Homo sapiens: one gene and its partners. The protein of the gene in region 3 interacts with the protein of the main gene of each other region in a pairwise test. Each region holds a gene or a part of one and is shown on either strand. Other genes may lie near its edges. The genes, in order: PIBF1, TRIM50 and ARHGAP45.

What was found.
Region 1: the proteins of ARHGAP45 (region 3) and PIBF1 interact in a two-hybrid assay, tested with the Homo sapiens proteins (one large-scale study listed by BioGRID).
Region 2: the proteins of ARHGAP45 (region 3) and TRIM50 interact in binary tests that used the Homo sapiens proteins (3 or more experiments, as listed by UniProt).

Annotation. Positions count from the first base shown.
Region 1 is NC_000013.11:72,823,485-72,827,135, reverse strand, and holds part of PIBF1 (progesterone-induced-blocking factor 1), read right to left. Parts: intron 127-3,651; coding exon 18-126; intron 1-17.
Region 2 is NC_000007.14:73,314,909-73,318,082, reverse strand, and holds part of TRIM50 (E3 ubiquitin-protein ligase TRIM50), read left to right. Parts: intron 1-1,393; coding exon 1,394-1,518; intron 1,519-3,174. UniProt on the Homo sapiens protein: E3 ubiquitin-protein ligase that ubiquitinates Beclin-1/BECN1 in a 'Lys-63'-dependent manner enhancing its binding to ULK1. In turn, promotes starvation-induced autophagy activation.
Region 3 is NC_000019.10:1,080,579-1,084,229, forward strand, and holds part of ARHGAP45 (rho GTPase-activating protein 45 isoform 1 precursor), read left to right. Parts: intron 1-103; coding exon 104-208; intron 209-313; coding exon 314-486; intron 487-971; coding exon 972-1,160; intron 1,161-1,245; coding exon 1,246-1,383; intron 1,384-2,261; coding exon 2,262-2,488; intron 2,489-2,564; coding exon 2,565-2,775; intron 2,776-3,651. UniProt on the Homo sapiens protein: Contains a GTPase activator for the Rho-type GTPases (RhoGAP) domain that would be able to negatively regulate the actin cytoskeleton as well as cell spreading.

The DNA of each region.
Region 1 (3,651 bases), on a different chromosome or scaffold from region 3:
TCTAATTATAAGCTTACCTCTTTTGATAATTCACTTCGTTCTTTTGTTTGAATCATGTGAGAGGCTTCAAGTATTTCATGTTTTCTCCTAAGCTCAATTACTTCCTGTTCAAGTGCATCACGTTCACTGTTAAAATAAAATTCAAAGAGACATGTAAATTTTACATCCCCTTGTACAGCGTACACTTTAAAAGGGTTGACTATGTATTAGGACGCTGAATAGAGACACTAGCAATGGGGCTTCAGTGTAATTCCATGAACTATAAAGTACCTACTTTTCAGATTTAGAAGGGACTCTGTTTCAGACCTTGTTCAAATACATACATATCAATTTATTACCTTTAAGGAATATACAAACTACATAAGCCAGTACAGTAAATAATAAAACTTACTAACATACATTTGGTATTTTTTCATTAGTCATCTTCAATCTTATCTTGAGGTTAAAACTTTTAAAGAATGTATACATGGCTCTAGGCTTTCAGTTCAGTTAAGGTAAAAAAAAAAATACAACTTATCATTTAGATTGCATAGTAGATACGTAGGCAGGCATTCTTGTGACTATTTCATTCACAAATTGTTTATGATTACCCAGATTTTAATTTCCATTTTAAGACAAGTTCCCCAAAAAAGTTATACCAAGAATTGGACTAAAACCTACAACACACATTTTTTAAAATGAGCAGAGAAACAGATTTACTAACTCTTAACTACTTCCCTGCAGTCAGAAGCAGTGCCTTTGCACTTTATTTCACTGACCCACCTGGTATTTCCACAGAGAGGGCTGTTAGGAATTGTTTTCCTTTGCATCAGTTTTTCAAAAACGTTTAGAAAGCCTTTTTTCTTCTAGTTAACAAAATATTATGTTTATTGAAGAAAAACTGAGCAAAGCACAAAATAACAATCACCTACAAACCCAATAAGTAAAGATGACTATCAGTATTACTATTCTGATACATATTACTATACGTATTTTGTGCTTTTTTATTTTTAGAATGTTTAGATTATTTTTAATTAAAAAAATTTTTAAATTTTATTTTGTGCTTTCACATGCAATTTTTTAAAAAATCTTTTTTTTAAATTTTTTTTTTTTTTTATGAGATGGGGGTCTTGCTATGTCACCCAGACTGGACTTGAACTACTGCACTCAAGTGATCCTCCAGCCTCAGCCTGCCAGAGAGTTAGGACTACAGGTGCATGCCACCATGTGCCTAATTTAATTTTTTTTTTTTTTTTGTAAAGACGGTCTTGCTATATTGCCCTGGCTAGTCTTAAAGTCCTGGGCTCAAGTGATCCTCCTGCCTGTGCTTCTGAAAGCACTAGGATTACAGACATGACACGCTGTAACCAGCTTGGTTCTTTTTAATGCTTTTACTTACCAATCATTAACACTGTTGTATTTGTTTTGTAATATTAAATAAATATTACTTTGTCATATTTATTCAAACCCTCTCTCTTGTTAATATATGTGAATATATGCAGGTGTCTTAACGGTATATGTGGAGAATGGGTTCCAGACCCACCCCCACAACCTGAATATGCAAATCTGTACATGCTGAAGTCCTGCAGTTGTTGCAGATCCCACCAAACAGTCAGTCCTCTGTATACTCAGGTTTCACATCCCGTGAAAATTGTATTTTCGATTGGTGTTAGGTTGATAAAAACCTGAATATAAGTGGACCCCATGTTGGTCAAGGGTCATGTATCTATATGTGTATACACACCTACACACACATACTCATACATGTGCATTTGTTTCCTCAACTGAGACATTAGGTCCCTTTATCCCTAAATAATTAGTGTGAATTTACTAAGATTAAAGATAGTCTCTTATATAATCACAGTATAATTATCATATTCAGGAGACTTAGCCCTAATATAATATTATCTAACATACAATCCATTTTCAAATTTTGTCAACTGTCTCCCAAAACACCCTTTGTGAATTTTTTTTTCCCTGAGCCAAGGCTCTATTACCATAATGGTAATCCAAGGATCTATTATCATCATATTATAATCTATTACCATGCATCTAGATGTCATGGGGTTTTAGTCTCCTTTAACCTTGAAGATTTCTTAGTTTTCCTTGTGTTTTATGACTTTTTATAGAGCAGAGGCTAGCTGCATCATAGAATGCTCCTCAATTTTCACTTGTCTGAAGTTTCTTCATTATTAGATTCAGGTTAGGCACTTGGGCAGGAATACTACAGAAATGATTCTCAGAAATGATTCTCTGATACAGAAACGCATTCTCAGTATGTTATGTGAAGATGTACTGAGGTATGTGACGTCAGTTTATCCCATTATTGGTGATAGTAACTTTGATCACTAGGTTAAGGTAGCATCTGCCAGAGTTTAACTATAAAGGTATCCTTTTGCCCTTTAAAATTAGTAAGTAATTGTGAAGAGATGCTTTGTGTAAATATCCTATTCCCTAACATACTTATACTTCATGGTTTTATATTCCAATGATGATTCTGAATCAATATTATTATGCGGCTACAAAATGGTCATTCTTACATGCATATACATTTATTGCTTGGATTTCAACCATAAAGATCCTCTTTCCCAAAAAGGATATATTTATTACCACTGAACTGTACACTTAAAAATGGTAAAGATGATGTATTAAAAAAATTTTAAGATCCTCTTTCTGTATTTATTATTAGCCTGCACTTATAAACTCTTATTCTATTCAATGGACTGTAATTCATTATTGCCAATATTTATTGTGATATTCAAGTTTGCTATATTTAGCCAGTTGGCACCTCATCCAAGTGGCTGTTGCAGTGTTGAATTGGAATTAGAAGTATCAACGTGGGCTGGGTGCAGAGGCTCACACCTGTCATCTCAGCACTTTGGGAGGCCAAGGTGGGCAGATCACCTGAGGTCAGGAGTTCAAGGCCAGTCTGGTCAACCATGGAACCATGTCTCTACTTAAAAAAAAAAAAAAAAATTAGCTGGGCATGGTGGCGCACACCTGTAGTCCCAGCTACTTGGGAGGCTGAGGCAGGAGAATTGTTTGAACCTGGGAGGCAGAGGTTGCAGTGAGCCGAGATCGTGCCATTGCACTCCAGCCTGGGTGACAAAGTGAGACTCTGTCTCAAAAAAAAGAAGTATCAGTATGATCTCATCCATAGTGTGTTAAGCCTCCTCCTCATTCTCCCTCTACTTTCTCTGCCTACTCAAAGGGCCTAGAAATAATGACCAATGTAGCCATGACCATAGCACCCAAATCCTAAATTTCTAAATAGCATTCCCCACTAAGAGATCAAGACTTCTTAGACAAAGAGCTGAGGCAATGAAATTACAAAACCAACAAACGAAAACCAAAACTAGGAACATTATGTTATGCCAGAAAATAAGGAACTTTTAGTAAAAAAAAGTGATACATTCAGATCTAATTTAATGATTTTAACTGCTACATAAAATTATATTGCAGAGTAAATCTCAATTTATTTTCCATTCTGCTACTGAAAAGCATTTGAATTTCTTTTAATAATGACACAATTAACATCCATACACCTGTTTCCTTTTGTACATTTGTGAGAATTTACCCGGGGCATAAAAGGGCTTTTTTTTCTTCCCCAGTTTATCTTATATTTTATGACCGATGTTTTTAAACTCATTCATTCTGCTGAGTGAACTAAAA
Region 2 (3,174 bases), on a different chromosome or scaffold from region 3:
GGCCTGATGGCTGAGAAGGACCCAGGACCTGAGTTTGCCAGGCAAGCCGAGGAAACGGTCCTGTAAAAGGGGGAGTGGCATGTGGACTCTGGTTATGAGTTCAGGGTGGCTGGGTGTAAGGCAGGATATCACCAGGAGTCGGAGCTGGGAGAGGTGGGAAATGGCCAGAAGCAACATCCAGGAGCACCGGGCATCCCTTGCTTACCCTCCTCACCCTTGCGCAGCAGGCAGTATCAGCCCTGCCTGAAACTTGCTCTGCAGATTGTGGGAAGAGAGTGGATCCATGTTCTAGACCCAACAAACGAACACGTGCAGTTCCCAAGCCTTCCTCACTCCCTGTTTATGGGAGACTCCGTGTTTCTCACATTTCTTTTAGTCTTAGAGACAATTTGGTCAGAAGACATGGGTTTAAATGAAGGGACAGAGGCTGGGCATGGCGGCTTACACCTGTAATCCCAGCATTTTGGAAGGCTGAGGCAGAAGGATGCCTTCAGGTCAGGAGTTCGAGACCAGCCCAGCCAACATGGTGAAACCCCGTCTCTATGAAAAATACAAAAATTAGCTGGGTGTGGTGGCAGGCACCTGTAATCACAGCTGCTGGGGAGGCTGAGGCATGAGAATCACTTGAACCTGGGAGGTAGAGGTTTCACCGAGCTAAGATCACCCCACTGCACTCCAGCCTGGGCGACAGAGCAAGACTCCATCTCAAAAAAAAAAAAAAAAAAAAAAGTCTTGGCATGGTGGCTCATAGCTGTAATCCCAGCACTTTGGGAGGCCAAGGTGGGTGGATTGCTTGAGCTCAGGAGCTCAAGACCAGCCTGGGCAACATGGTGAAACTGTCTCTACCAAAAATAGAAAAAAATTAGCTGGGCATGGTGGCACATGCTTATAGTCCCAGCTGCTAGGTAGGCTGAGGTGGGAGGATCACTTGAGCCCAGGGGGTTGAGGCTGCACTGAGTCGAAATCATGCCACTGCACTCCAGCCTGGGTGACAGAGTGAAACTCTGACTCAAAAAAAAAAGACACATTACTTGGCCCCCATAATTGGTTTCTGATTGGCAGGTCTGGTGTGGGGTCTAAGAACCTGCATTTCTGACCATTTCCCAGGTGGACCATTGACTTTCTACTGGGAATGGGTTGGACCATTTTCCAACCAACACTGCTGGTCCCCAAACCTGCACTCTAGAAGCACCACTATAGAGCGTTTCCCCTTCTAGGAAGGAGATGGGTCCTCCCTGAAGGGGCTGTGCAGGGGAGGGGATGATGGGCATTGATGGGCATTGTGACTGCAGTCCTGCACTGTGGATCTGGCTGGGCAAACATAGATAGGATGGAGGGGTGGGGTGGGCCACGTGATACCTCACTCTCTTGTACTGTGAACTGTCACCTGCAGAGCAGAGATGCCGCAGGCCCGGCCCTTAGAAGGCGCATTCAGCCCCATCTCCTTCAAGCCAGGCCTCCACCAGGCTGACATCAAGCTGACCGTGTGGAAAAGGCTCTTCCGGAAAGTTTTGCCAGGTGAGGCCCTGACCCGTCCTCCTTCCTGAGGGCTGCCGCCCAGGGCAGGTGGCAGTTCATCGATTGTATCAGAGAGATAATAAGCTACAGAGAACTCAGATGGAGGTTTGTGGAGGGTCCTAGTGAGAGCATGGGACTGAGTTTCCGAACAGCTTGGGTTCCTGCTTACTCTTTCCTTTCCTAGCTGCTGGCTGGGCAAGTTGTGTCATTTCTGAGCCCAGGTTCCTCATCTGTAAAGTGGGGCTATTTGCACCCACCCGGCCAGGCTGCAGAGCTTGTATATAGACATACGTGTGTTGCAGCTTAGTGCTTCATAAATGGTATTAGGTTGGTGCAAAAGTAATTGCAGTTTTTGCCATTACTTTTAAAAGTAATGTACTTTTTGTCTGGGCACAGTGGCTCATGCCTGTAATCCCAGCATTTTGGGAGGCTGAGGAGGGCGGATCTTCTGAGGTCAGGAGTTCAAGTCCAGCTTGGCCAACATGGTGAAACCCCGTCTCTACTAATAATACAAGAATTAGCTGGGCGTGGTAGTGTGCGCCTGTAATCCCAGCTACTCAGGAGCCTGAAGCAGGAGAATCACTTGAACCAGGGAGGTGGAGGTTGCAGTGAGTTGATATCGTGCCATTGCACTCCAGCCTGGGCAACAAGAGCAAAACTCCGTCTCAAAAAAAAAAAAAAAAGTAATATCCTTTTAAAAATGTCCTTCCTACTCAAAGGACAAGTGGTCTTCAAAGTAATGGCAAAAACCGCAATTACTTTTGAACCAACCTATTCTTGTTCTCTGTCAAAAACAACTCAAACACATTTCATTCCTTTATTACTAGCATGCTGTCTTGTACATAAGGGAGACTGCTAACAGAGCGATTTCATCCACCAAAAGCAAAAATAGGGTTTATATAAAAGAAGGGGCTGGGCACGGCGGCTCACGCCTGCAATCCCAGCACCTTGGGAGGCCAAGGTGGGAGGACTGCTTGAGGCCAGGAGTTCAAAACCAGCCTGGGTAACATAGTGAGACGCCATCTCTACAAAAAATAATTAGTGGGGTGTGGTGTTATGTGCCTGTGGGCCCAGCTACTGAGGAGGCTGAGGCAGGAGGATTGCTTGAGCCCAGGAGTTGGGAGGCTGCAGTGAGCTATGATTGCACCACTGCACTCCAGCCTGGGTGACAGAGGAGACCTCATCAGTAAAAAAGAAAAGAATGAAAAAAAAAAAAAAGGAAAGATAAGAAGGAAAAAAATTGCAGTTTGTGAACTGTGAATCCTGTTTGTACATCTCACATTTCTTTTTTTTTTTTTGAAGGAAAATTTGTATTATTTTCATGTACAGAAAACTCAACAGTGTACGTTTTACCCAGTTTAGTGGTAGTTTCTTTAGTCTTTGCCTTTTTGAGCTTGGCAATGTGAGCCACAGACTTGGGACCCAGGACACTGCCTCCCCAGTGATGGCGGATCTCATCACATTTGTTGTTGTAATTGGTCCTGGTAGCTTCCACCAGCTTAGCCCAAGCTCCTTTGTCTTCCAAGTTAACCTGTGTGAAGGCGACAGTGGTGCAGGTCTTCCTGGGGACTAGACATCCCAGTCTTGCCTTCCCCTTGATGATGCAGTCAGGGACCCCACTTTACACACAGGCACAGGCAGGAAGACAGCCAGCTT
Region 3 (3,651 bases):
GGAGCTGCCTCCTCTCCTGAGCCTCAGGGTTTCATCACCCACCGGGGTGATGGAGGGGGCCCCCCTGGCTGGGGGAGTCTGAACAGTCCTGATTCCCGCCCAGGGGACTTTAAGAAGTTCGAGCGGACGTCATCCAGTGGTACCATGTCGTCCACGGAGGAGCTGGTGGACCCAGACGGTGGAGCCGGGGCTTCAGCCTTTGAGCAGGGTGAGGGTCCCCTGACGGGGCTGGAGAGAGAGGGGGGTTTGGACACAGTCCATGGGCCTGGCCCTGAGCTGCCTTGGTGACACCGGCTGCCTGTGCTGCCCGCAGCTGACCTCAACGGCATGACCCCCGAGCTGCCGGTGGCCGTGCCCAGTGGACCGTTCCGCCACGAGGGGCTGTCCAAGGCGGCCCGTACTCACCGGCTCCGGAAGCTCCGCACGCCCGCCAAGTGCCGCGAGTGCAACAGCTACGTCTACTTCCAGGGTGCTGAGTGTGAAGAGGTGAGTGGGACGCCCCGACGGACAGCTGGGAGCCTTCGGGAGCCTTTGGGGTGCCCAGCACCGCCGGCCTGTGTGCCCTCAGGAATGTCCGGCCCAGAGCAGGGAGCAGTCGGACGCCTTTGGAAGGAAGCGAACGGAGGGGGTGGGGTGGGCTCTTTTAGTTCTGGGGAGCAGGGTTGGCTCTCTGAGGCAGCGAGGCAGGGGGCAGACCTGGAGGGTGAAGAGTCCTGGGGCTGTGGCCAGAAGACCTGGAGGGCAAAGGCCCTGGAGCTGTGTCCAGAAAACCAAGGGGCGGGAAGGAGAGGAGGCCACAGGGCAGGCGGGATCACCCCTGGGGTGGAAGCCACGAGCCACTGTCCAGCTTGTGTTTGCAGAAGCTGCCGTGTGGGGGCTGTGAGCGCCCCGGGGAGGTGGGGTGGAGCCGCTGGGGGCTGCGCTGAGCTGGGCGCCCCGGGGCTGGGCTCACTCACTCTGGCCGCCCCCAGTGCTGCCTGGCCTGCCACAAGAAATGTCTGGAGACGCTGGCCATACAGTGCGGGCACAAGAAGCTGCAAGGCCGCCTGCAGCTGTTCGGCCAGGACTTCAGCCACGCGGCCCGCAGCGCCCCCGACGGCGTGCCCTTCATCGTCAAGAAGTGCGTCTGCGAGATCGAGCGGCGGGCGCTGCGCACCAAGGTGAGGCGGGGGAGGAAGCGGCTCACAGCGAGGAGGCGGGAGTGGGCCGAGGCTGATGGGCCTCCCCACCCCCGGGCTCCCGCAGGGCATCTACCGGGTCAATGGGGTAAAGACACGCGTGGAGAAGCTGTGCCAGGCCTTCGAGAACGGCAAGGAGCTGGTCGAGCTGTCGCAGGCCTCGCCCCACGACATCAGCAACGTCCTCAAGCTCTACCTGCGTCAGGTGAGACCCACCGGTGGTGGCCAGGCAGAGCCTGGAAGGGGCGTAGCCAGGCAGGAGGAGGCGGGGTGGGGGTCCGGGAGCTGGAGCAGGACTGAGCTGGAGCAGGACTGGCGCAAGCGGGGGCCTGGGGAGGACAGGGTGGGCGGGACAGTGCCTGGCAGGGCAGGGCTGAGGCTGGGGGCGTGGTCACGGTAGGAGCGAGGCGGGGCCAGTTCTGCGCCGAGGCACGGACAGGGACAGGAGGGGCGGGGTGGGGCTTGGTCAGCACGTGGCAGGGGTGTGGCCACGGCAGAGGCACACCTGACGCTGTGCGGGGGCGGGGCCGGGGCCGGGGCTCGGTGGGGCGTGGCCAGAGCAAGATGGGCGTGTTCAGCGCTTGGCAGGGACCCGTATGAGGCTAGGGGCGGGGCTGAGGCTAGACAAGTGCGGGGCTGGCGGTGGGGCCTGGGCTTGGTGGGGCGAGGCTGGGGCCAGGGGCGTGGTCATCCCCGGGGAAGGGCGGGACTGGGGCTAGGGGCGTGGTCATGTCTGGGGAAGGGCGGAGCTGGGCTGGGATGGGAGTGGGACCAGCACTTCGCAGGTGGTTGGGAAGGGGTCAGACTATGCTGAGTGGAGCCGGAGCTCGTTAGGGTACCTGCAGGGCGGGGCGCGCGTGGCCAGAGCGAGAAAGGGAGTGGAGCTGCGGGCGTGGCCCGGGTAGGAGGGGCAGGGCTCACGCTGGGCTGGGAAAGGGGACTGACGCCGCTCTGGGTGGAACCCGAGCTCGGTGGGGTGTGGCCAGTGCTCTGTGGGGGTGGGGCTGAGGCTGGGGGCGTGGCAGGCACACGTGGGGGCTGGGCCAGGCCCACCAACACCTGCTGACCCTTGACTCTGCGCAGCTTCCCGAGCCGCTCATCTCCTTCCGCCTCTACCACGAGCTCGTAGGGCTGGCCAAGGACAGCCTGAAGGCAGAGGCCGAGGCCAAGGCGGCGTCCCGGGGCCGGCAGGACGGCTCGGAGAGCGAGGCAGTGGCGGTGGCCCTGGCAGGTCGGCTGCGGGAGCTCCTGCGGGACCTGCCGCCTGAGAACCGGGCCTCGCTGCAGTACCTGCTGCGTCACCTACGCAGGTGAGTCCCGGCATATGGAGTGGAGGGCGCGGGGTCCCGGGAGCCGCTCAGCACCTGGCCCCTGCCCACCCCGCAGGATCGTGGAGGTGGAGCAGGACAACAAGATGACCCCCGGGAACCTGGGCATCGTGTTCGGGCCCACGCTGCTTCGGCCACGGCCCACCGAGGCCACCGTGTCCCTCTCCTCCCTGGTGGATTATCCCCATCAGGCCCGCGTCATCGAGACTCTCATCGTCCACTACGGCCTGGTCTTCGAGGAGGAGCCGGAGGAGACCCCCGGGGGCCAGGTGAGGGTGTGGGCCTGACCGGGGCTGGCCACTCGGGGCTTGGGGAGCAGGGGGCGCTGCTGGGGACAGTCGTTGTCGGATGAAGCCCAAGGAACCACAGGGAGATAATTTGGTTTGGACAGGGCTGTTCGGGAGGCCACTGTCTTTTTGTGTCTTTTATGCAAAAAACTCAGCGAGGTCTGCATTGAATCTGGCAGAGGTGCAAAGGCTCTGCGGCCGCCCCTCCACTCTCCCTTGGGGCTGGCCTTGGGCCTCACCCTTCACCCCCAGCTTCCTTCCCCGTTTCCCATCCCGGTGCTGCCTGCAGCCACAAGCTCCACGCTGGCCCGGTGTCCACAGCCTGCCCGAGCTGCCACTGCACTCCGCCGCGAGGTCAATTCCCCGCTTCAGATTTTCTTTTCTGGGAGTTGTAGTTTCGCTCCTGCTGCCCAGGCTGAAGTGCAATGGGGCGATCTCAGCCCACCACAACCTCCGCTTCCCAGGTTCAAGCGATTCTCCTGCCTCAGTCTCCCGCGTAGCTGGGACTACAGGCGCCGGCCACCACACCCGGCTAATTTTTGTATTTTTAACAGAGATGGGGTTTCACTTTGTTGGCCAGGCTGGTCTCGAACTGCTGACCTCAAGTGATCCGCACCCCCCTTGGCCTCCTGAAGTGCTGGGATTACAGGTGTGAGCCACTGCACGCGGCGTCTCGTATTCTTTCAATCCATCTTCCCTGGGTGTTTAGGGGCTGCGGTTTCTCGGGTTTGCTCTTGGCTGAGGACAGACCGCCTGGGCAACAGCGGGTGTCAGTAGCTGTTACGGGCTGTGTGGGTGGGTTTGTTAATTTATAACATGGAAAATGGAGCCCCGGCCCCTCTATGACTTCCGTTCTGC